3 separate regions of the Homo sapiens genome follow, and regions 1 and 2 are each linked to region 3. The links come from fine-mapping of genetic effects on gene expression. A gene starts in region 3. Each other region holds a variant in brackets. All regions are shown on one strand. Distances are between the middles of the regions.

Evidence for each region.
Region 1: its variant is fine-mapped to the expression of AGA in whole blood (INTERVAL, PIP above 0.99).
Region 2: its variant is fine-mapped to the expression of AGA in whole blood (INTERVAL, PIP above 0.99). The same link has a PIP of 0.9 or more in CD4 T cells.

The regions. Positions count from the first base shown.
Region 1 is chr4:177,482,025-177,490,210 of GRCh38, forward strand. All of the region lies in intron 1 of AGA-DT (AGA divergent transcript), which reads left to right. Among named protein-coding and RNA genes, the nearest start is that of AGA-DT, 41 kb to the left of the region's middle. The variant C/A (reference allele first, on the strand shown) is at 4,783.
Region 2 is chr4:177,389,573-177,397,758 of GRCh38, forward strand. No RefSeq gene overlaps it. Among named protein-coding and RNA genes, the nearest start is that of AGA, 49 kb to the right of the region's middle. RefSeq lists a silencer at 3,798-3,857. The variant C/A (reference allele first, on the strand shown) is at 3,816.
Region 3 is chr4:177,438,137-177,446,322 of GRCh38, forward strand. AGA (aspartylglucosaminidase) reads right to left here and starts at 4,301. Exons shown (of 9, transcript NM_000027.4): 1 at 4,113-4,301; 2 at 2,137-2,290; 3 at 1,440-1,552; 4 at 609-721. The coding sequence starts at 4,239. It overlaps AGA-DT (AGA divergent transcript), which reads left to right and starts at 6,874. Exons shown (of 4, transcript NR_183779.1): 1 at 6,874-7,307. RefSeq lists enhancers at 3,347-3,426, 4,253-4,796, 4,887-4,966.

The DNA of each region.
Region 1 (8,186 bases), 44 kb after region 3:
GTATTCCAGAAGAAGGCTTTATTATCATAGGATAATTTTATCCTATAATCATAGGATAAAATTTTATCCATATTATCACACTCCAAATGGACTATTGCTTCTGAAGACCTTCCAGTAGGACAAGATGTGGAGGTGGAGGACAGTGATATTGATGCTCCTGACCCTGTGTAGGCCTAAGCTAATGTGTGTGCTTATGTGTGTTCGTGTCTTTATTTTTAACAAAAAAGCTCAAAAAGTGAAAAAAATATTTTCAAATAGGAAAAGCTTATAGAATAAGGATATAAAGGAAGAAAATTTTTTTGTTCAACTGTACACTGTATTTGTGTTTTAAGCTGTGCTATTACAAAAGTCAAAAAGTTTAAAATATTAAAAAGTTTATAAAGTAAAAGTTACAGTAATCTAAGTAATTTATTATTGAAGAAAGAAAAAATACTTTTAAAATAAATGTACTGTAGCCTAAGTATACAATGTTCATAAACTCTGTAGTAGTGTACAGTGATGCCCTAGGCCTTCACATTCACTCACCACTCACTGATTCACCCAGCTCCACTTCCAGTTCTGCAAGCTTCATTCAAGTTAGGCACCTATACAGGTGTACCTGTGTTTTTACTGTATTTTACCTTTTATACTCCTTTAATTTTTACTTTATCTTTTCTAAGTTTAGAAACACAAAAACTTAACCACTGTGTTACAGTTGTTTATAGTATGTAGTACAGTTACACACACACTGTACAGGTTTGTAACTTAGGGGCAACAGATTACCCCATATAGTCTAGGTGTGCAGTAGGTGTGTCAGTACACTCTATGGTGTTTGTGCAATGACAACATTGTCTTATGATACATTTCTCAGAATATATCCTCATTAAGCGACACATGATTATATTTTATTTTGAGGCAGAGTTTGTTCTAACAGCTGATCCTTCTCCCCACTCTTTTTTTTTGCTACATATTCTCTTGCACTTTTTTGATTTATTATTCCACTTGTATGTCTATTAGTATGTTTTATACAAATATCAGTATAAAACAATGCACATGATGACCTCTTTATGGTATCTTAGTAACAATCCAGATAATAAAATCTTTGAGTATGTGCAAAAATATGGTAGTAAATATGGAAAGTGAAAATATACATTATTGAGATCGTTTTGAGACATTTCATTCTGTAAGTTCACAGTAGCAGAAATAACCACCATTTTTCCAAACTGTCACAAAATATAGTGGTAATTATGCTGGGATGAATACACATCTCATTTCCATATTTTCTATAGGGTTTCTTTAATGTTATTAATATGATATTAAGCAGGGGATTCTTCGTTTCAGGTGACTTGAGAGCTATTTCTGACCATATCTTTGAGCTTTTCCTAGTAAGGAAAGGTGAAGTTCAAATGCCTGAGCATACAGATGTGGTACCATGTGGAAAGGGTGGGGTGACTCAATCTTATTTCCCTCTTGGTTTCTTCCTGTTATTGCTCTGTTTTGAGTAATTGCCCCTTTCTTCTGAGAAAACAAAAAAAGCAGCCTTTCTTAGGGAATCACAAATGAGCTCCTTTAATTCTGTGGACCAAGTCCTTTTGCAGACCAGTTAAAGTGGTTAATCTCTTGCTACTGATCCAGCTGTAGGACATCTTTTTCCTTGAACTGTTGAAAGCTCACAGGCTACTTGGATTCTTTCTTCTTTGTGTTTTCTGCCTGAACTTTTTACTACTGAATTTTTTCCTCTTTCTTTTGTTTTACATCATTGCCAAACTCATGTGTATTATTTTTTTTAAAAAGGAGCATTTATAGATGGGAAGAATTGTCCCAGTTTTATGCATGTCCGGTGCAATTCATGCTCTACTTGAAAGTGATTCTGCATTTTGTCTGTAAAACAAACTCAGAAGGCTTCATCCAGAACCAGTTTACACAGCTTCAAAGAAGAATGCAGATGTGACATAGTACGAATGCTAACAGCGATGGTAAGGTCTCACAACACCTAGGTGAGCTTCTGATGTTCCCAGATTACTTCCAGTCACCATAAATTACTTTGCCATCCACTAGCTCTTAAAACTTTCCTTTTTATTGCACAAAATGCAAGTGAAAAAACAGAAGCTGGAAAATGCATACATGTAAATGTACAGCTGGACTTTCTCCTGTAGGCTAGGTTGCAATAATTATAGATTAGGCCTTTAGAATATTTCATTTCACAAAGAATGAATTCTTCTTTACATGCCCTAAGTCTTGTTCTATCCTCTAAATCAATTATTTTCAACAGACATTTCCTGAACATGCTAGGTAGTAAGCTGAACGCACACATATGAATAAAATATAGTCTTAATCACTTATGGTCTCCCTTGGCTTGAGGAACTCATAAGCTAACTGCTTAGAAGTTGTAAAGAATTTATTTTGGGGGAAGAGCCTAACTAATAACAATGAAGATACTTAAAACTTATTGACTTGTAAAGACAGGATAGCATAGTAGTTAAAAGCTTGGACTCTGATTTCACCACTTTCTAGTGTTGACCATTGGAAAAGTGGTTTGATCATCTGATGCCTGTTTCTTCATTTACCAAAAATAGTTAGTAACAGAATTTACCTCATAGGCTTGTTGCAGGGCTTAAATGAGTTAATAGTTGTAAGGCACTTAGAACAGTGCCTGGAGTCAAATAATTGTTTAAAAATAGTTAAAATGCTTTGCTTATACCAAGGATAGATCTAACATTAGGAATGCACAGATGGTATTAGTCATCTATTGTGTAACAAATTACCCCCAAACCTAGCAGCTTAAAACAACAAACCTATTGTCAGGCATGTGAATACCTAGTTAGCTATTTGTCTCTGATTCAGGGTCACTTAAGGCAGCAACTAAGCTGTGAGCTGGGGCTGCAATCATCTTAGGTCTTGAATAGGGAAGGATCAGCTTCGAAGGTCATTGTTGTGATGATTGGCAGGTCTCAGGTGTTTGTAGGTTGTCAGATGGAGACATCAGTTCCATGTCACATGGACCTCATGGGACATTTTATAACATGGCAACTGGCTTCCCTCAGACTGCGGAATGGAGGAAGTAAGAAAGGGCACCACAGAGGAAGCCACTGTTTTATGATGAAATGATATTCTATCACTTTTACTGCATTTTGTTTGTTATAAGCAAGTCACTGGGTCTGGGCCACACTCAAGGGAAAGGATTTACACAAGGGTCTGAATACCAGAAGGTGGATTTCTTTGGTGACCATCTTATGAGATACCAACCACAGAGATGATTAGTATTTTTCTTAGCCTATAAATGCTAAATAGAATGTATTTAAGTACACAGTGTTTAGAAACTGTATTTATAGTTCTTCCAGTAAGAGAGAAATGAAAGTCACTTAAAATCTCCAGAAATTTGGCAATCTTTGAATGAACTTTATTTGCTCAACTTAAAGTTTGTCTCAGATGCCAGGTTGTTCATTAAAGTTTCTGTTAGTCCATTGTCTGTCTTTAAAAGATAGAAAGACCATGGTAACTTGAAAGTCGCCAAGTAGAACTCCCCCAGGGTTGGAACTAATACTGCTTCTTTCCTCTGAAGCTCTTGTTCCACTCTGATTTGTGGATTTACTTATATAATTTAGTCAAGACTATGGCTTCTTGGAAGAAATCTCAGAAGGACTGAAATATAATAGCTTCTTTGTCCATACAGCCCCCAAAGTGTGATTCACAGAATATTTTGCCCTTCATGGCTCATGAGAAACCACGTCATGTCTTTAAGTCATTGACTTAAAACTAAATTATGAGGATGAATCACAAAATGATGTAAAGAAAAGTGTCTGTTGAATTTAGTATGAATAATCAACCTGTATAATGTAAGATAAAAAGAGAAAAATAGTGTTCTAAGATAAGAGTTGCTATGATTTTATTTGGTCTTGAAGCACTGAGATGTATTCTATTTTGCCTCATCAGTTCAATCAAACACACATAATTAATATTTTGTTACTAATTAATTTGTGTGTACTTTGAAAAAGTATCCTTGAACTACACAATTTATATGAACTATTTCTGAAGTATATTTAGAAGAGAAAAAAAATTTATGATTGCTTTTTCAATTAGTATTCCTCTGCTTATATTGTGCCTGACCTCTTTTAAAACCTTAATTTAAATGAAGAGTAAAGAATTCAACATTCTCTTGCAAGGTGTATTCCGGATGAAATATTCTTCAGTTATGTTTCAAAAACATACAGAGTTGTTCTGAATTTTAATTAGACTGGCAATGAACTCTTGTTCTCTAGAAACATGAATAGTAAGACACAATTTCCTAGCAGCATCGTAACGACAAAAACAACAACAACAAAATGATGTTTCAGTATGCCTTTCGATGAGGAGAGAAAGTAGAGAAACTTACTATTAAGAGATATATTGGTTACATTAATTTAAAAATTTATACAGTAAGTGAATTTTGTGGAAAAAATAATTGTTTCTATTTTCTGATTAGACCACCTGCATAACCTCATCTTCTCATCCTAATTCTTCTCTATTATTTCTGAACCCTTCCGTATTAATTATCCTCCCTTTCTATTCCATCTTCCATGTCTTCCTCCCCATGGACCTCTTTTTCTCTGCCTATTCACAGGCCCAGACCTCTTATTTATAAACAGAAAATAAAATAGAAATTTTCCTTTAGCCATGCCATTCCCTTGAGGAACTGACTTATCATGCACATTTTTAACCAAACCAAACCAAACAAAACAAAACAAAAACTCTTTGACAGAAACTGTTTCTGTCCTCTATGCTTTTTATCTTTGCATTCTTCAACCCTAAATAATCTACCTTCCA[C/A]CTTAACTCCTTAGCAAGTGAGCAGCAGCCGTCACATGTGATTGTATCATAACACAAACAATGGTCTCTTTTCAATTTTCATCTACCTTGATAAGTTGTCAATGACTAACACTGATTCCCCCAACCCTTTTTGCAGAAATCAATCACCCTGGCTTTCTTGATATAGCATTTTATAGTTCTCCTATCTCCCACTAAAGGAAGAAATAGAAAGACAGAGAGAGAGAGAGAATGGTGAGACATACTTAATTAATATAAATAATTGGTTTACACTATTATAGAGGTGGAGAAGTCTGAAGATCTTCAACTGGCAAGCTAGAAAACCAAAAGAGCTGATGGTGTAGTACCAGTCCAAGTCAAAAGGCCTGAGAAACAGAACAGTGGTCTAAGTTCCAGTCCAAAGGTAGCAGGCTTGAGACCCAAAATGAACCATTTCAGTCTGAGCCCAAAGGCTGGAAAAACCAACTTTCCAGTGCAAGCAGTCCGACAGAAGTAATTCCCTCTTACTCAAGGGAGGGTCAAATTTTGTCTTGTTCAAGTTTTCAGCTGATTAGTTGAGGGCCATCCACATTATGGAAAGTAATCTGCTTTACTCAGTTTAATAATTCAAATATTAATCTTATCCAAAAACACCCTCACAGACACACTCAGAATAATGTTTAACCAAGTAGCTGGGCACCCCATGGCCCAGTCAAGTTGACATATAAAATTAACCACACACCACCACCCATTCTAAATTCCCTTTTCCCTCAAATGACACATAGCAAATCAGGGTTTATTCCTTGTGGGTAACTCAAATCTTCCTTGTTGTAGCAGAATTGGGAAGTAACCTTGCCCAGAGCATTGCATCTTCCAGAATATTCTTTCAGTCTTCACAATATAGCAATGACTATTTCCCCGTAAGATGTATTAATCACCCACTAAAACAGTAACACCCCTTGTTCCTTTGTCGGTTCAGTAACATGTGGACTCCCAAATGACCAGGCGACAATGCCATCTGCTAGTGCAGTGGGATCATTTTTATTTTTTTGGTTGAGAACATTACTCCCTTGGATACTGTTTCAGTTACAGAACAAGATAACCTGCTACCATGAAGAAACCACAAAATACGGTAGCTCAAACAAGATACTCTTTTCCCCTCCCATGAGTCCAGTACTGGCAGATGGTTTAGGGCATAAAACTATCTCTGCTTTATAAGATTACATAGGGGCTTCTTCAGTCTTGTTCTGTCTTGTTGCTCTGTAGTGCTGTAGGGTTTTGCAGGCATGGTCAGAACTGGATCATCTGCATTACATCTGTAGAATTTGTATGTATTTCTACATATGAATGTGGAAAGAAAGTAGAGTTCAGGCATTTTCCATTATTAAAGATTTGACCTGAAAGTTGCATGCATCACTCTGCTCACACCCCATTAGTCATAACTTAACCACATGACTACCTAATAGGTGCAATGGAAAATTGTAACATGTAGTCTCTAACCGGGCAGCCATGTGCTAAATACTTAGGGTGCTCTATAATTAAGATGTAGAAAGGGATCATTAGTCTTGGGGACATTATTAGTATTGAAACCTCTAAACAACTGGAGACCAAAGTTCCAGGATGGAAAACAAAATTATGAACAAGACAGCAGGTTTGAGAGCAAGGTGCCACTTTCATTCCTTGGTCCCAGGCTCATGTATTTTTGGTTTTGAGAGACTTGGCATCATATACGAGATGATGGTTTGAAGCATATACCACATCCTGAAAGACAGTGCCCCAACCACGGTGGGATTGGTGCTCACTGGGAGGATTAATCTTTCCTACTGTCCATCAGGGACACCCTGACTGTCCTGAAATGCTATATTGGTCTACCTCTGCATGGTTATAACATACCATGTTTATGTAAACCAAGTCCAAATGTTTTCTTCCTCAGTCGAGTAGTAACAAAAGTCATTCTCATGAGACTTTATGAGGGAGAGGAGGCAGGACAATAAGAGTAGAGATGGTGAGAATTTGAGTTGTCTCTGCATGCAACTTGCCTATGTCTTTACATTGACTTCATGATGGAGTGTTGCTGACAACGTGATGATTTTCTGGGTTCAGTAACACCTAATTCATGCTGGACAGGTCAGGTTGCATGGCCATTTGGTATCTCATGATTGAGTGTTTAGTCTACCAGATCCTAGTAATACGGTTGCAGTTAGTACAAAAGAAGAGAAAAATTGTTTCCAGCGAGGGTTTTTCCTCAGGGGGCATTCAATGAGTGTTTACTATGATTTTCTTCCAGGAGCCTGCCATTGGCTCCACTAAGTACCCTGATCTGCTACAGTCATTTCAAGTACTAATGGGTCCACAAAGTCATAAGAGCTAAGAGGCAGGGATGCTTTTGCTACAGCTTTATCAGCTGTAAAACTTTGTCTTTCTCTGGATTCCATTCAAAACTGGCAACCTTATAGATGGCTTGCTAGTTTAGAAAAATATGCCAAAAGTTGTATGTTGCCTACCAAATTGAAATAGGACCGTGGTGTGCACTTTATCTTTCTTAGTTGTGGGCAATGCAAGGTACAGCAAGTTGCCTTTCACTGTGGCAAAGATATTATAATGTTATTTAGTCCACTGAGCACTATATTTTAATGGGTTTATCTTGGACCTTTTTATTTACTTGTGTCTTAGCAAGACCACTAGGTTAATTGCTTTTAGTTAGTGTTCATAAAATTCTATCTTTAAAAAATAATCAGTATAAGAGTAAAACTTGACTTACTGTGGAATGGTGAAATCATTATCATTCCTATAGACTAAATTATGACACAGAGATAGAATTACCACACATAGCTCACATACTACACAAAAACTGACATATCACAAGACAGGAAAGTGAAAATATACTGCTGTCCATGCCCAGTGAAAGCAAACTGTTTCTGGTATTCTCTATATAGTATGATGGAGAGGAAAAATAGTCCAGCTGCATACTAAGCTGAAGGGCTTAATTTGCTCTGTTATGAGACAATATTTGGTTCAGCAGCTTGAATTTGAGTAACTATTGCTTAAACTCTCCCTAATCTACTATTCTTCTGTAAGTCTTATTGATTTTCTGTACAGACTGAAAGGCAAATTGAAAGAGGACACATAAGGGACCAAAATCACTGCATCTTTTAAGTAATTAATAGTGGCACTAATATACAGATTCCCACTGGAGATATCATGCTGCTTTGGTCTTACTCATCTTAGGGAAGGGGAATTCCACAGACACCAAATTGGCCTGTGGTTCCATCTAGTCCTCACTCCGTGATTCAGAGTCAATGTAGGGATTTTGCTAGTTGTTGAGTATACCCATTTCAGTTTACACTCTGATACTGAGCAACAGGAGAATGTGTTTACCATGAGACAGACCCAGGCCCTCACTCTGAGTGGGGTTTCCACAGTAGCAT
Region 2 (8,186 bases), 49 kb before region 3:
AGAGGATAATGATTTTTTAAGAGTATATCGAGAGATTGATGACATGAAGAAGAATTTCAGGCAGGCAAAGGAAATGGCTGGAAATAAATGTCTCAGGCATAACTGGTTTTCCACAGTTGTCTTTCAGAGCTGCCACAGGGAACAACTTCATAGCCTTATTGAGCATGAAGCAGTTAAAGTTTCCATTAAAATTGGCTAAATTAACTCTCCCGATGCTTTCGGACAAATAGTAAAAGGTCAGGCCTGATGTTTAACTGACTTCATAATATCTGCTTTTCTTTTATTTATTAATATTATTTTCACTTTCCTTTTTATTACCATTGTTTCAAATATGTTATTTAAAGTAACTACACATGAGAATGTTATGAAATAGTGAGGCAATATTAAACCAGTCCAAGCATGGTGCTTCTTTCCATAACCACCTTTATATCTAATTGCAGTCCTCGCCTTCCTGTTTTCTTATTGGACCACTAGGCTGGAATGTCTAAGCTGTGTAAATTCAAGCTCACTAGGCTTTTATCTTTGACAGTGCCTAGTGTCACTTTGGGAATATCTTGGGGAATATGTTACATCTGCACATTTTTTTTTCATTTTATTGTCTTTTCTTCCTTGCAAATTGTTACCTAATGACACATTAACTTGTCAGATTATTTGGTTACTTTCTGTTTCAATCATTTCTATTAATTTAATTTTTCACATCCAGTTTTCATGTTTACCGAGCAATTTTGATGTTCAGTTTGTTTTACTTTCCTTACACTACAAATTTCTTGTTTGAAATCTCCTGCCTTATTTCCAGTTTTTTTTTAAATCCCTTTTCCCTCCCTTTCTTTTCCCTCCTTCCCTCCCTCCCTTCCTCCCTTTCTTCTTTACTGTCTTTCTCTCTTTTTTCTTCCTTACCTGCTTCCTTGCTTTTCTTCCTTACTTCAAAATCATAGGGAAGGCTCACAGATACTCAACAATTATTCAATTGTTACATATTCAAATGGTAAGCATGTAAATGCTTACCATGTCCTAAACACTGTGCCAAGCCCATACATATATATTTTTTTAGTTCTCATAACCATTCTCTGAGGCAGAAATTATCATTCCCCTCATTTTGCAGATATTAAACCTCAGGCTTAGAAAGAACATGTAAACTGACCACGTAAGTCAGTGGCAGAGTCATAGACAGAATTGAGCTACGCTGCCTTTCCCCATAGGGTGAGATTCTCAACCATTCTGCCTGTAACTCTATCTCTGACTATAGCTGCAAAGTGTCCTCTAAAAAAGAAAGGATAACTGTTCTTGATGATATTCACCTCAGAAAAATTAAAGTTTATTCCAAATATCAGAGGCTTCCATTAATAGTATTTTATAAGACTATGATCTATAAATGTGTCCAAAGCCAACCTGAAGTCATTTATGTTTTTTACACTTACTATCTCAAAATGGTAGACTTTTCTAGAAGTTTTATATACATCCTATTAGCTGCTCTTCCTTTTAGACCTTTAAAGTTTCCCTCATTCGTCACCCCTTTCACCTGCATGGCATTTTGCCGGCTCACTGCCACATCTCTTCACTCCCTTCCCTTCCTTCTAACATTTTTGGCTTCTGTCGCATCTCTTCTCCACTTCAACTTTCCAGAGTCCTAATTCAGTTAGTCAATTGTCATTCACTGCCTCTGCTTTCTCTTGATTTCTGTAATTGCACTCCTTATGACCCCTTTCCCGTCCACCATATTCTTCTGAAAGTACAGATCAAATAGATGTCCCAACTTATTTCAGACAGGAAAGCTTTGATTGGGCAAATTATATTGTAAGTACTGTGAGGGCTGGGTTGAAAGAAAAATATGAGACTGAAAGCAGGAAAGCTCTTGCAATAACATGGATAAGAGGCAATGAGGTCTGCTGGGGGGAACCGTGGGCTGTGATGAATGGAATGCAGACAAATATGGGGTAAGATCCACTGCCGCCCACTTGCCAGCTCGGTGGCCCTGGGCAAATCACTGAAGGTCTTTGAGCTTTAGTGCTTTCATTTTCAAGATAAAGGTTGTAATATCTATCTTATTTGTTGCTTCAAGCATCAAAGGAAATACATTTATTTTGGCTTATAGGAGATGCTCCAGAAGTTGCAGTCTTCACAATTTAGATTTGGGGCAATTCGGTTGCAAAGAGAGATAGATAAGGGAAACAAAGACGAGAAGAATAAAAGAATGCCAGTAGGTTCAGTTTGAATTATCTCTGGCTTTCTAAATTCCTAGATTGTTCCTAACCTGCCACAATATATGTGGGTTTTCTTTGTCTTGTTTTCATCTGGAAAAACTTACCATCTTTGAAAAGATATGTTTTTGATAATACTAGCCTATATTACTTGCCAGTTAACTGCTATCTGTGAGTTTCTCTGTATAGGAAGTTGGAGGGGGGTAGTGATGGGAAAAGAAAAAAAGCGGTAGCGGAAGGCAGAAAGGTGGGCAGAAGAAAGATGAGAGTGGAGGGTGGCAGCAAAGGCAAGGTGTTACACAATCTTTCTTTTTGATTCATAGCACACACTTTTCCTGAGTTTGCTCCGGGTTGTTTTCAAAGAGTGTACAGATTTCCTGCTGATTATTGACTCTGCTTTACAATTCCAGCGTTTTGTCATAGTTTGTTTTTTAAAGTTGAGTAACCAAGCACATGTACCTTTGTCTATGCCGCTAATACCTCCTTAGTCACATAACAGCTGTTCCCTGGGTCTCTCCTATAGTGCTGTGACACGTTTGTACCCAGCAAGGAAATCATATCCCTCAGTCATCATTACTTTAGTTCTAATCATTTGCATTTCTATAATCTCTCCTATGATACACATTTGTATTTCAGAATTTCTTGCCCTAGTTAATGTGGGAGAATTAGCTAGAAGGTAAGTTATATAAAAAAATCTGTTTTCTTCCTTGTAATTGTCATCTAGAGGTCTCCCCTACCATTATATCCCTTGAAATTCTGAGTAACTACTGTATATGCTTGTATCTGAGTCTCTTGATCAATCTCAGGGAAAAAAGCATGCTATAGTATTATTATTATTATTATTATTATTGAGATGGAGGCTTGCTCTGTTGCCCAGGCTGGAGTGCAGTGGTGCAATCTCAGCTCACTGCAATCTCCACCTCCTGGGTTCAAGCAATTCCCCTGCCTCAGCCTCCCAAGTAGCTGGGATTACAGGCACCTGCCACCACTCCTGGCTAGTTTTTTGTATTTTTAGTAGGAAAGATGCGGGAAAACACAAAGCTGGGCTAGGGTGGTCTGGATTAAGAGAGAGGCCGTGAGTTGGGGAAATCAAAGGTTTACCACCTTCCAAACCACCACTATTTGCAGCCCTCCTGTTTGTCCTCTGCTAGCCAATGCTTCCCCACTCTCCCATTCTGCCTGTGGGTTGCCCCCTTTAGTCCTGACCTCCATCCCATCTCTCCTCCTTCCACCCATCCCAATCAAATATCTCTAATTTGGTAATTAAGAAGGATGTTCATCTAACTAGAATATTCACACCAGCGAATGGATGAGGCTTAACCCCTTCAGAGATCATTTCCATTTTAAAGCTGTAAAAATGAAGAAAGGGAATATTGGGAAAGAAATGGCCAGATCCTGCATTTTTGGTGACCCCATATCTGCTTTTCTAGAGGGCCAAGAGATGAAAATTATTCTGGCTGCATAATTTATAGCTATATGGATTTGAATTGTTGCTTTCCTCTTGCTTCTCTCTGACTTGACCAAGCACGTAGCTAGGCCTTTGTGCCGCTGTGCACGAGGGAAGCTTCATGCAGAAGGAAGGCGGGGAGTAAGTGTGGTTTGTGGTGAACTCTTTCT[C/A]GTGATCTTTGTTTTCAAGAATCCTGAGCTCCTCTAGGGGTCTGTACTAGAGCAGAAGGCAGGGAGACCAGGGCCTTTGAGCACAGTGCTCTAGAAGGAAACTGCTGCAGTGTGAGCTCGGTGGACTGTACTCCAGTTAGAGGGTCTCAGCTTTGTCCCAGGCTGTGAGGGGCACAGGAGTAACAAACCTGAACCTCAGAGGATACGTGGGTCTGAACATGAACACGTGTAAGGCATATAGGTGGGCTGGTCATAGGAGGACTGTCCCCATCTAGGCTACTCTGGGTGAGTCTCTCCCTGCCCAAAGAACGTTGAGGACCCTAAACTAGAAGGGCACTCACCGTGATGGAGATTGAATTCCCCATTAGGCAAGTTAGAAGGGGGCTCAGAGACTAATTTGTCTTCAAGTAAACAACATTTTTTAGTATATGGGGGTTTGTGGATTCAAACTTACACTCTACAAGAATCAACTTTAGAGCCATGTAAAATCTCCTTTCATCACTAGCTTGTAAATGATCACAAAACAAAAAGTAGAGTAAAATTCACAATCCTCTAGGCAGCAGTGCAGGTATTACTATATCTTCACTGTCTCCATGTTCTCTATATCATCATTTTACTCAAAGCTAGGCTTTGAGGAATCAGTCAGGTTTATTTTAAAACTGAAAATACAAATGTTAACAACGTCTTTTAAAAAACCAGAGTGTCTCCCAATAGTCCTAGCTCAGCTATTTCATTTTTACATATTACCTTTCACTGGCATAATTTTACACATTTGCAATTATGTCTTGCAGACTGTTTCTTTTCTTTCTCAAAGCCTATGAGGGTTAATGCTTCAAATAACCTGCTGAACTTGAGAAGAACTGACAGAAGATATCTATTAATTAATTAGCTCCAGAGAATGCTAGAGGAAAAATAAGAGTGGCTTGGTCTGGTCATTGTATGCCACACAAATAAAGGCTAAAGGGAGATTTTAAAGCATATCACTGGTTAATTGCATACTATTCAAATCCTGAACTAATGCTTTTTTCCCTCTACTTTTTTTTCTGCCACATATTTTCTTTCCTGAAACACCTTGGGTTCTCCTAATAACCTGGATTTTTAAATACGCTCAGGCCTATTCTGGCCAAATACCTGAACTTACAAGATTCCTCTTTTGTACTGTCCTGTTGCTCTTCCTGCGTTTGCAGATTGATAGAATAAGCACTGGAGGCTGAGCACGGTGGCTCATGCCTGTAATCCCAGCACTTTGGGAGACCGAGGCGGGTGGATCACTTGAGGTCAGGAGTTCAAGACCTGCCTGGCCAACAAGGCGAAACCCCATCTCTACTAAAAATACAAAAAAATTAGCCAGGCATGGTGCCAAAAGCCTGTAATCCCAGCTACTCCAGAGGCTGAGGTGGGAGAATTGCTGGAACCCAGGAGGCAGAGGTCAAGGAGGCTCACTGCTTCCTTGAACTCAGGAGGCAGTGAGCCAAGATCGCACCGCTGCACTCCATCCTGGGTGACAGAGCCAGACTCCTCAAAAAATAAATAGAGAAGCCACTGGATAAAGCAGGTCTTGATTCTAGTTCTCCTTCTGCCTACTTTTAGGAGCTTGGTAGGCAAGCCATTCAGCCTTTACAAACCTCATTTGTTATCAGCAAAATGTGAATTACAAATAGTGATTCTATCTACCTCCCAAGGTGGTTGTTAGGATCAAAAGAATCAAATCTGGGAAAACACTTGAAAAACTTTAACATGGAACACAAATGTAAGCTATTGCATAAGACCAAATTAAATATCTTACATTTAATTGTACTTTTTCCCATCTATCAGTTATAAGCAGGTCACCTGAATTTAAAAAATAACTGATACAGAGTAATGTGTGTGTGCATACCATTCTGGCCATAGAGCATACTGAGAAGACAATATTATAATTCACTGCCTAGTACCATTAGTTAGAATGTTTTCAATCCAACCAGGTGATCTACTTTCTTCCCAAGCAGCTTTTAAAAAAGGTACCAAACTGCCATTAAGTGAAAAAAATAACCATTTTATAAACTTCACAGACATTTACTCCTTTATCTTTCTTGTCATTTGCACAGAAAATAAAATTTGCACAGAAAGCACTGAGTTCACTTACTTGAGAAGTGAGGTGATTCGGTTTTCTCTTCCCTTTGGAATCACCACTTTCCTTCTGCTGTTATTCTATGTGGGCTTCACTAATCATAGAATGGCAGTTTCTTAATCAAAATTGTTTTATTTTGAACACAAAAGCAAATTAAGCAGATTTTTTAAGAGATGGAATCACACAGAGTTTATCTTACCTCCAAAGGAATGGATTGGGTTTGGTGTTTGAGTTTTATTAGGAAATTTATCATAAACTCAGGTCAGATATATTAATAAGTATTATATTTGGCTCAAATGAAAGCAGAGGGGAAAATGACGTTAGGGATAGTGATGGTTGAGAAATAAAAGCCACAAATTATTTAATACTCCTGAGCAACATCAAACAAAACACCTCCAAGTTAAGGGATCACTTTTTACACAGCAATATTTACTATAACAGTGGTCCCAAAATTATTTTATGTTGAACTTAGGTAGTTGGTAAGACTAATATTCAATTTTCAAGAGACCGAAGTTCCTACCCCTTAGGTAGTTGGTAAGACTGTTATTCAATTTTCAAGAGACGGAAGTTCCTACTCCTGGTTTTATCATTCATTAACCTGTGAGCTAGCCAAAGTGTCATTTAAATGTGCTGATTCCTTTGTCTATAAAATGGGAATGTCTATTATTTTAAGTTATTATAAAGTTCAAATGAGAATACATGTAAAACTCTTTTCAAAAGGGAGCATGTGGAAGCATTATCATTATTCTCGATTTAACCAATAAGAAAAATTGTAATGTTAATCTCTTATAGTACAGATTTTGTGTTTTTTTTTACAAATCAAATTTTCCAAGAAATGTTTAAGGTGTTTTCTTATTTTCCAGAGTAATATTTATTGTTAGATTGAGGGAGTGGGTGGAAAGAATACAAATTCAAGTCAAAGTACATAAAAGCATATGCCTATTTAAAGTTTCATTTTCTTTCCCATTCTTATTGTGATATTACTCAGCATGATGTATTACGGGCTTTAGGGGTGATTTGTATTCATCGTAAAATTTTCTCTCAGTACTATTAGAGCCCATTGTGGGATGCTTAGGACTGTCTGAAAGTCATTTATCATTCAGAATTTATGATAAAACCACTGTTAGGCAGCTTCTAGACACTCTGTCATATTTACCCTTCTGGAAAGCAACATAGTGAAAGAACATTTGGGAAGTGACCTTGATGCTTTCATATTGTGCTATTGTAAATATCATTAATGCTAGAACTTTTAAACATCCATCCTATCAAGAATCAACTGCTAAGATGTCTAAAAAGCTATATTCCTACATTTCATTTCTGACTCTTTTCCTCAAATTGTAAATGAGCTGTTTCTAGCAAGCATGGTCCTTGATGTGGCATTGGAGTCTACTTTTTAGATCACTGACATTTACTAAGGCCTTTCAAGAAATGAAGGCCACATTCTTCAGACTGTATTTCTGGAAATTATGTGCATATTTAGCTGGATTTGTTTTTCTGTGCAAGGAAGAGACTAGAGACTTGCTGTGCAACGTTATTGGGATGCCCCCTTGAATAAGTCTCAAAGGTCTGAGCAGCTGCTCAGAATGGGAAGTTGTGCTTCTTTGCCAAGACAAGTATTTTTCATTTTCTAGAGTCATAGATTACATTGGACAGAGAGAAAATGTTCTGGATTCTTATTGTCCCAGTGATACCACCATACTACCTACCTTGCATGCAAGTTGGTGTTGAACAATGCAGTGAATCTACAGTGCTAGTGTGTATTCTTCCTCCTTATTAGGGCAATCAAGAAAAAACAAAACTACCTTTGTCCAGAATTTAAGACGATGACAACTCTCAGTTTTGAAGGGTAGAAATTATTTAAGTGCTATTTTTTTCTAGCACCAAAGCCACTTCTTCCGTACAAAGTACTTAGATTGTAAAAGTTTCTTGTAAAAAAACACACAAAAAACTTCCATGATTCCAAGGAAGAAAAAATGCAAAAACATTACACAGTCCCCCCAGAGAGTTGGATGCTGTCCCTTTTTCAAGGCTTGTTGCTCCATTTCTTTTCTCCTGACCCTACCCACCAATATAACCAGTCTCTCCTTGCCTAACATGTCCTTAGACTTTACTCAAACTGTTCCCACTACTAGTAATGCCATTACCTGATACTCCAACTGTTGAAGTCCTACCCTTCCTTCAAGGCCCCATTCAAATTCTGCTTTCTAGGTCTTCCCATATGTTCTCCGATCAAAATGATCTGTCTTCAGATATACCTTCATGAT
Region 3 (8,186 bases):
ACTTCGTTTTATGATTAGCCTCTTTCAAGTGCTAACCCAAGGGACTTCTGACTTGATGGCTACTCGAAAGTAATTAGGACTTAGGGAAGAAATAGATGAGAGACTAAGATATCCCACAGAAGGACCCTGTACGGCAAAGGCAAACTGATTTATGCCAAAAGTCTCATTAAAGAAAAATTATTCCACTGGTAACATACTAGACATGTAATATTACATGTCCTCAAGTCAAGAACAAGATACTGGATACACTGCACGTAAAATCTAAGAAATATTTTAGACTCATAGTTTCCAAACTGATTTTTTAGACTTAGTTAGAAAGAAATACAAGCAGAGCAGCCCTGATTGAGGCAGCCACCTCCACATGGCAGAAACTTCAGTTTGAAAACTATTGTGAGAGACCAGTAGCTCTCCATGCTGGATATGCACCCAATGCAGCTAGAGGTGTTTCAGGAACATCCATACCTGGAGAGTCAACTAAAACCACTAGTTCTAATGTACAGCCAGGATGCTAACCAGTACCCTGGACAACAGGCAGGCAACACTGAGCAGAAAGGATGTCACTGAATATTTTCAATTAACTTATTTTTTTAAATTAAATGTGTGCATACCCTCCAATAATTTGGCTGGCAATTCCGAGCAAGCCAATCTGAATGAAGAGCTTGAGAAGCAGTGGTAGATAAGTCTTCATTGATAAACCCCATACTTTGAGCAAATGTGGTGGCTGGAGATTGGAAAAAAGGAAAGTATAAATTATTCAAGTATTGTCTTTTCAACAAAAATATATGTACTAGAGACATTCTGGGTCAGCAGCATCTTAAGTGAGCTACACAAAGACTTTCAAAGGAATATTCACACATGAACAGTTTTAAGAGACTCAATTTTTAGACCTTCGATTTCCTTATGCCTTTCCTAAAACAGATCCACTTAAAACCTTTGGGGCATGCATTATAAGAGTTCTCGTCCCGGCCAGGCGCGGTGGCTCACACCTGTAATCCCAGCACTTTGGGAGGCTGAGGCGGGTGGATCACGAAGTCAAGAGATTGAGACCATCCTGGCCAACATGGTGAAACCCCGTCTCTACTAAAAATATAAAAATTAGCTGGGCATGGTGGCACGTGCCTGTAATCCCAGCTACTTGGAAGGCTGAGGTAGGAGAATCACTTGAACCCAGGAGGCAGAGGTTGTCGGGAGCTGAGATCGCGCCATTGCACTCCAGCCTGGGTGACAAGAGCGAAACTCCGTCTCAAAACTTCCATTGCCTTCTTCTTAGAGATGAAGAAGTAAAGAGATTTAAAAGTTACTTATCCAGTTCAATAGATGTTAAGTAAAACAGCTGGAATTTGAACTTAGATCTGGTTTTATCCATGATTTTGTACTATTTTTCAGTGAAAACTATAGTCAAAAGACTAGAAAAAATTTCAGTGTAGTTAAAAAAATACCTGACTCTCCTACTAAAAGTGTGTGTGTTGTATGTTCCAGTACTTTCCGTGCCACACCAATAGCATTTTTAATTCGTCTGAGATCTCCTACTGCTCCTACATCCATAGTAGTGCTGCAAGAAAATAGAATGCAGTTAGGAATTAAGGAGTTTTCAGAGGTTCATAGATTAAAAACATTGCTTTTCTCCAATCAATAGTGTTTTGCGGTTAAACTCCACCATCTTAACACAGAAGTGACAGCACATCCACGAAGTTCATATAGATTCCCACAATCAGACAAAATTAAGGAAAAAAAATAGAAAATCAACTTGCCATGTACCACAACAGCACTAAAATTCTCAGTTTCTCCAAGCTAATTTTAAATATGGCTTTTGAAAGGGGCCTGAAGGCTTCAGGTCAGGCAAACCACAGCATTTGTGGACAGCAGATAAATGATTGTTTATAAGGTCAGAGACATAGTTTTTTAGCTTGGCATTCTCCCAGTTCTAAGGGACTACCTATCTCTCCATGTGATATTTCTATTACTCTGATTTTTTTTTTTCAGTTGAGAGGGAAACTGTGTTTAGAAAGGTCAAGTATAATAAGCTAGGGGTTTTGATCTGTGTCAAAACTCATGCATTCTTTCATCTTGCTCTCAGAAGACCACAACTCTAAATGTAACTCAACATAATAAATAGGACCTGAACGGTGTTCTTACCCATCCATGATCATGGCATCTAGTGTGGTTTCTCCAAGTTCATCAGGACTTCCTCCAAAGCCTACAGAGCCGTCACACTGCTCTCTCTCACACATGGCACAGCCGCTCTCCACTGCATCCAGGGCAGAGCCTCCAGATGCTAATGCCCTCCACGCTGTTAATCAAATCCCAATAATGCTTGTTTATATATATATTTTTTTTTCAATGCCAAATGCAACAAACCAACTCCAATTTAACAACTTTTTCACATTTACTGAGTTAAGCTGATTTTTTAACACATTAGTTTATCAAGTGTTACAAAGGAGTCAGTGAAGAGTCAAAATTATTTAACTAGTTATCAGAAGAACTCAAAAAACTGGCTATTGGTGCAAGCTGAAGGTTTTTTTTTTTTTCACTTACTAATATCTATCTCTTCTGTGTGCGAGAAACGAAATCAGTATCCCCTCCTTTATTTTAAAAGGTACAATCGAAACCACTAAAAGGCAGTTAAATAAAAAATCCACTAAACCGCAGCCTTCTTCACACATTTCTTCTGCATCATTAGATTAAAATATGCATAATTGATATGTGTATTGAGGTAACACCTATCCCAGGAAGTCTTAATAATACTGAACAGCAAACAATTACAACGTGGACTTCATATGGATTAGTTCATTGAGTCTTCATAACAGCTTCTGTGGTAGGTACTGTACAATCACGACCCTCATTTTAAAGAAAAGTAAACAGAGCCACAGGTCAGGCAGTTAGTTTAAGGTCACACAGCTGGTAAGTAGCAGAGCCAGGATCCCATACATTTGGGGGTGTGGGGGGAAGGGTCTTTGATGGACAATTTCTTTTCTGGTAACAACAGAATTCCTTGAAGAGTGGGTGCTCTGGTTGGTAAACACTACAGCACCTACAGGCTTGAAAGTGTATTTACGCAAGTTCCCTCTTTCAATACAGGCAACTTAAACACAGAACTGTCCCCCGCCCAGGCTGATGCAATTTCTTTTCGTCTCATTATGGCTGGGAATATCTTTCTCACAGCCTGCTTCTTCATTTTCTCTGAATCGTATGCACTGCCACCAAATTCTGGAGCCAATTCTGCCCTAGAAAGTTAATACGTTAGCAACCTCAGATGGAGGAGGAGGGGTCTGAAAATGACTCTTCTGGTCATTAAGCAAATGAAAGAAACAAGCATAGTACAATGCGAAAATGCCAAGATAATGGTACGTAAAGGCTATTAACAAGGTGTAGAAGGCAGGAACCTAACTCATTCTGGACACGAGGGCAGTTAAGTCAGGGAACGCTTCCTGGAAGAGGTGATACCTTAGCTTAGTGGTTCTCAACCCTGTCTGCAAATCGAAATCACCTAGGGAGCTTTTTAAAGAAAAACAGTGGCCCTGATTCCAGCAGTTAGATCACAGTCACAGGAGGTGGGCCCCGGCAGGATGATTTTTGAGAAGCTCCCCAGATAGTGTGAATGTACAGCAAAGGTTGGAACCTTGAATTCTAAGTGGCAGGTAAAGTATGACAACACGTGGCAAAAAAAGTAAATGGGAAAAGAGTAGGCTATGGCTGGGACACTATTAGTCGTCTACAAAATTGCAAAGAAGTGAAGGATTAGAAACGAGAGGTGGAGACGTACACAGCCCGTGAAAAGACTGTCAGGCAGAAAAGCGTAGCTGCTACTTGATTAAAGCACAAAGGCCATAACTATGGTCAGCAGCAGGGTGGAAAATACATTGCGCTGGGGGCTGCATGAAGGGAGGACCTAAAATGCAACAGCGGTAGGTGGGGAGGATGCAGTAAAGGCCACTTGCAAGAGACTGAGCGGCGCTGGAGACTCGGGAAGACCTAGAGGGCGGGACCGCGAGGCCCGGCCCAGCCCGGCGCTCTTCCGTCCGCCCTGCCGGGTGACTGCAGCGGGGCGGGCTAGTCATCCCCACCCGCAAGCTCTCGCGGCGCAGCCGCCCGCCCAGGCCGCCAACCCGCACCTGCTTCGGTTGCATTCTTAAAGGGCCAAGTGTTGACGACCAGGGGCAGAGGGCTGGAGCAGCGCACTAGGGCCTGGCAGAGCAGAAACGGCACGAGAAGCACAGGCAAGTTCGACTTCCGCGCCATCCCTGACCACCGAAGAGACCAGCGCGAGAAAAGTCCCGGCAGCCAGCGATCGCCGAACAATTAATCCCCAGTGCCCCGCCCGCCTGGCGCCCACGCCCGCTCTCTCGGGGGTTCGCTCAGGCGTCCCTCAACTCTCGCGAGACGAGGCGTCCCTGGGCCCGCGGGAGAGTTGTGTCACGGGGCACTGAGCTGTTCCCTGCGCTAAGGTGCTTCTTCCTAAGTGCTGTTCAGATTTTTAAAATAGCCAGACAAGTTGCTGCTTTTCCTGTGGTTAAAATAGATTTAGCTTGATATTGGGAATTTAATACAAAATTATTCAACTCTGGGTTGCAGGGCCCCAGGAACTTTAGCCGATTGCTGTGTACTATGGATTTGGTTCTTTTACTGTCTTTTTAATTTAAAGTTGAAGTTGAAAAGTTTGTCAAACTCAGTATATTCTTGGGGATCCCAGGCCTCGGAGGTCTGCAATAGTTATGAGTGTAGGTGAAGCGTGTTTGCTTAGGACCGGATTGATTTTAGATTTTTTTTCCATTCATAGCGTCCGTCATTTTCGCACCACAGCTTTTTGTAGCACTTCCTCTCATTATAAATCCCTGAGCTGGAAGAAAAACAGAAACGGCCTATGTACCCTCTACCTAGCACACTGAAGTGCAGCTTCCTGCACCTCCAGGGCAAGACGGCTACCTCCATTCCTTTTTAAATGTATTTTTACCTTCCTGCCTGGCACTATTAAGTGCTAAATAAATGAATAAGAGGAGGAATGGGGATTTTACGTGCTTGGTGGAGGCTGCTCAGTTTTGTTGCTGGGCAGACGTGCGAACATGAACTAATAATCCCTTTGGGTGTCTGGAATGCCTGCCCAGGTTGCCAAGGCAAGACACATAATCACATAATTTTTAAAAGCATCTATAAATCTATACAAACTTTAAAAATATGAACTAGGCTGGGCACGATGGCTCACGCCTGTAATCCCAACACTTTGGGATGCTGAGGTGGGTGGATCACGAGGTCAGGAGTTCGAGACCAGCCTGGCCAACATAGTGAAACCCGTCTCTACTAAAAATACAAAAATTAGCCGGGCGTGGTGGTGCATGCCTGTAGTCCCAACTACTTGGGAGGCTGAGGCAGAATTGCTTGAAGCCGGGAGGTGGAGATTGTGGTGAGCCGAGATCGCACCACTTCACTCCAGCCTGGACAACAGAGTGAGATTCTGTCTCAAAAATAAATAAATAAATAAATGTAAAAATATAAACTAGGTAGGAGTTGTGAGACTTACAAAACCTTCAAGGCTCTTATTGATTGCTAGGAAATTAAATACATAATTTAAAGAACATAAGATAGCCCAGAAGTATCATTATCCCGTTGGGGAAGTGTTAATTAAAAGATATAATAAAGACAAATTTTCTAAGTTCCTTTCATGGGGTTTGGAAGAGGAACAAGTCATCTGTGCTGGAGTAATCATAACCCAATGGCAGGTGAAACTGGAAACTTGGGTGAAACAGGGTAAGAAAGCCAGAAAAACATACATTGTCCTCTGAGTAAATTTTCCTTAGCTCCTGGGCTGAGTATTTTTATGCAGCCTTAAGGAATTAGGACATGCCTTTAGCAAAAATTGTAAAATACAATACATGGAAAATTGGTCTTAGTACCCCACTGATCTCTCTAGCCTCTTCCTGTTTTTTAAGGTATTTGTGTTTCTTCTGGTGGAAAGAGCCTGATCTGTTACCTCCTACTATGTCTATTTCTCCAAATTCTTTCTTCTTAAATAAAAATTCCTGTCAGAGAAACAGCTAAATTACACTATAGTGGGAATGGCTGATAGAAGGTCTCAATATATCAACTTTTCCATGGATATTTGTATGTATGTATGTATGTATGTATTTATTTTTTGAGATGGAGTCTTGCTCTATCGCCCAGGCTGGAGTTCACTGGTGTAATCTCAGCTCACTGCAACCTCCACCTCCTGCATTCAAGCGATTCTCTTGCCCCAGCCTCCTGAGTAGCTGGGATTGCTACTGCCTACTACCATGCCCGGCTAATTTTTGTATTTTAAGTAGAGACAGGTTTTGCCATTTTGGCCAGGTTGGTCTTGAACTCCTGACACAGGTGATCCACCCACCGCCCCCACCCCCCCGACCTCCCAAAATGCTGGGATTACAGGTGTGAGCCACCGTGCCCAGCCGGATATTTGTATTTAAATAACTAATATGCAATCCCTATAGAATCTACCCGATTCAGTGTCTTCTTAGTGGCTACTAAAATACCTACTGGATCCACTGTCCAGTTTGCCTAAATTGTAGCTGTTTCTTAAGTTAAATTCGTCTGGATATTTGGTTCCTTCTGGAGTAGTTTTCCTTTGACTAACACTTGAAGAATAATTTTCATTTTAGTTCTAGAAGTAACCTTCTGTTACTCTCACTTAGGTGCTCTTTTGGGCCTAAATATAATTAGATCCTTCGCCGTTGTTTTGAGGTAAATCTAAACGAAAAGGAACACCTGTTAACAGGTAGTGATGCCGCAGGAAAGTGCTGGGAAGGGAATGCTGGGAAGGGAAGGGCGTGGTCCCTTTAAATGATAAGGAAGGGGGGCGGGAAGTGCTGGGTAGAGGAGGGCGTGGTCCCCAGCTAGGGCTTCATCCCTGGGCCTGGGCCTACCTAGGTGAAGACAGGCATTTTTGTTTTCCTGCCCGGATGTTGCATTTCCCAAGACCACCCTGGCCTGCCATGCCCTCATCCTGTGCCTTTAAAAACCCCCGAGACCCTGGCAGGCAGACGCACAAGCAGCTGGACATTGAGAGGAGCATATAGGCAGAGAATACAGGGGCTGCTGGATGTCGAAAGGAACGCACCAGCATAGGAGCACACCGGCATGCTGGCAGGCCATTGACCAGCGGAAGAATGCAGAGTTTGTCGCGGGAGGTCAGAGAAGAGTCAGGCCGCCATACCTGACTCCAGGAGAAAACCGTCTCCCTTCTGGTTCCCCCGTCTGCCGAGAGCTACTTCCACTCAATAAAACTTTCCACTCATTCTTCAAGCCCACGTGTGATCCAATTCTTCCCGTACACCAAGGTAAGAACCCGGGATACAGAAAGCCCTCTGTCTTTGCGATAAGGCAGGGGTCTAATTGAGCTAACACAAGCCGCCTACAGACGGTTAAACTAAAAGAGCACCCTGTAACACATGCCCACTGGGGCTTCAGCTGTAAACATTCACACCTAGACACTGCTGTGGGGTCAGAGCCTCACAATCTGCCCGTCTGTATGCCCCTATAGAGGTTTGAGCAGCAGGACACTGAAGAAGCGAGCCACACCCCCATCACACGCCCTGCAAGGGCGACAAGGGAACTTTTCCTGTTTCAGTAGTAGACCGTAAAATAAATGATCCTCAGTTTTTCCAGCATCCTCTCCAATTTTTCATTCTTTTAAATCATTATACACAGGGCAGAGATATTTAGTGTTACTGATAAATCAAAGGAACTATTTGTAAAAGTATTTTTATTTAAATTTAGAATGCATTACACAATTTTGTTTGGCAAAATGTTTCTGTTCCTAAGTAGAGCTTACTTATAACTAGCAATACTTCAGGAGGATTTTCCAGACTTAGATTTTAAAACTTAGGGTGTGGCCAGGCCTAGTGGCTCATGTCCATAATCCTGGCACTTTGGGAGGCTGAGGTGGGTGGATGGCTTGAGCCCAAGAGTTTGAGACCAGCCTGGGCAACATAGCGAGATTCCTGTCTCTATTAAAAAAAAAATTAAAAAAAGGTGACTGTGTATCAGCTGTGGTTAACTCATGTAAGCTTCCTAAGCCATGCTTTTCTCATCTATAAAATGGAGATAATAATAGTATTCTTTCTTATTTTACAAAGCTTTGTGAATGAGGTAGGAGATGTGGGAGAATGGTGTAATACCAGGCAAATTAAATAAAATTCTCTTATTCTAATTTGCCA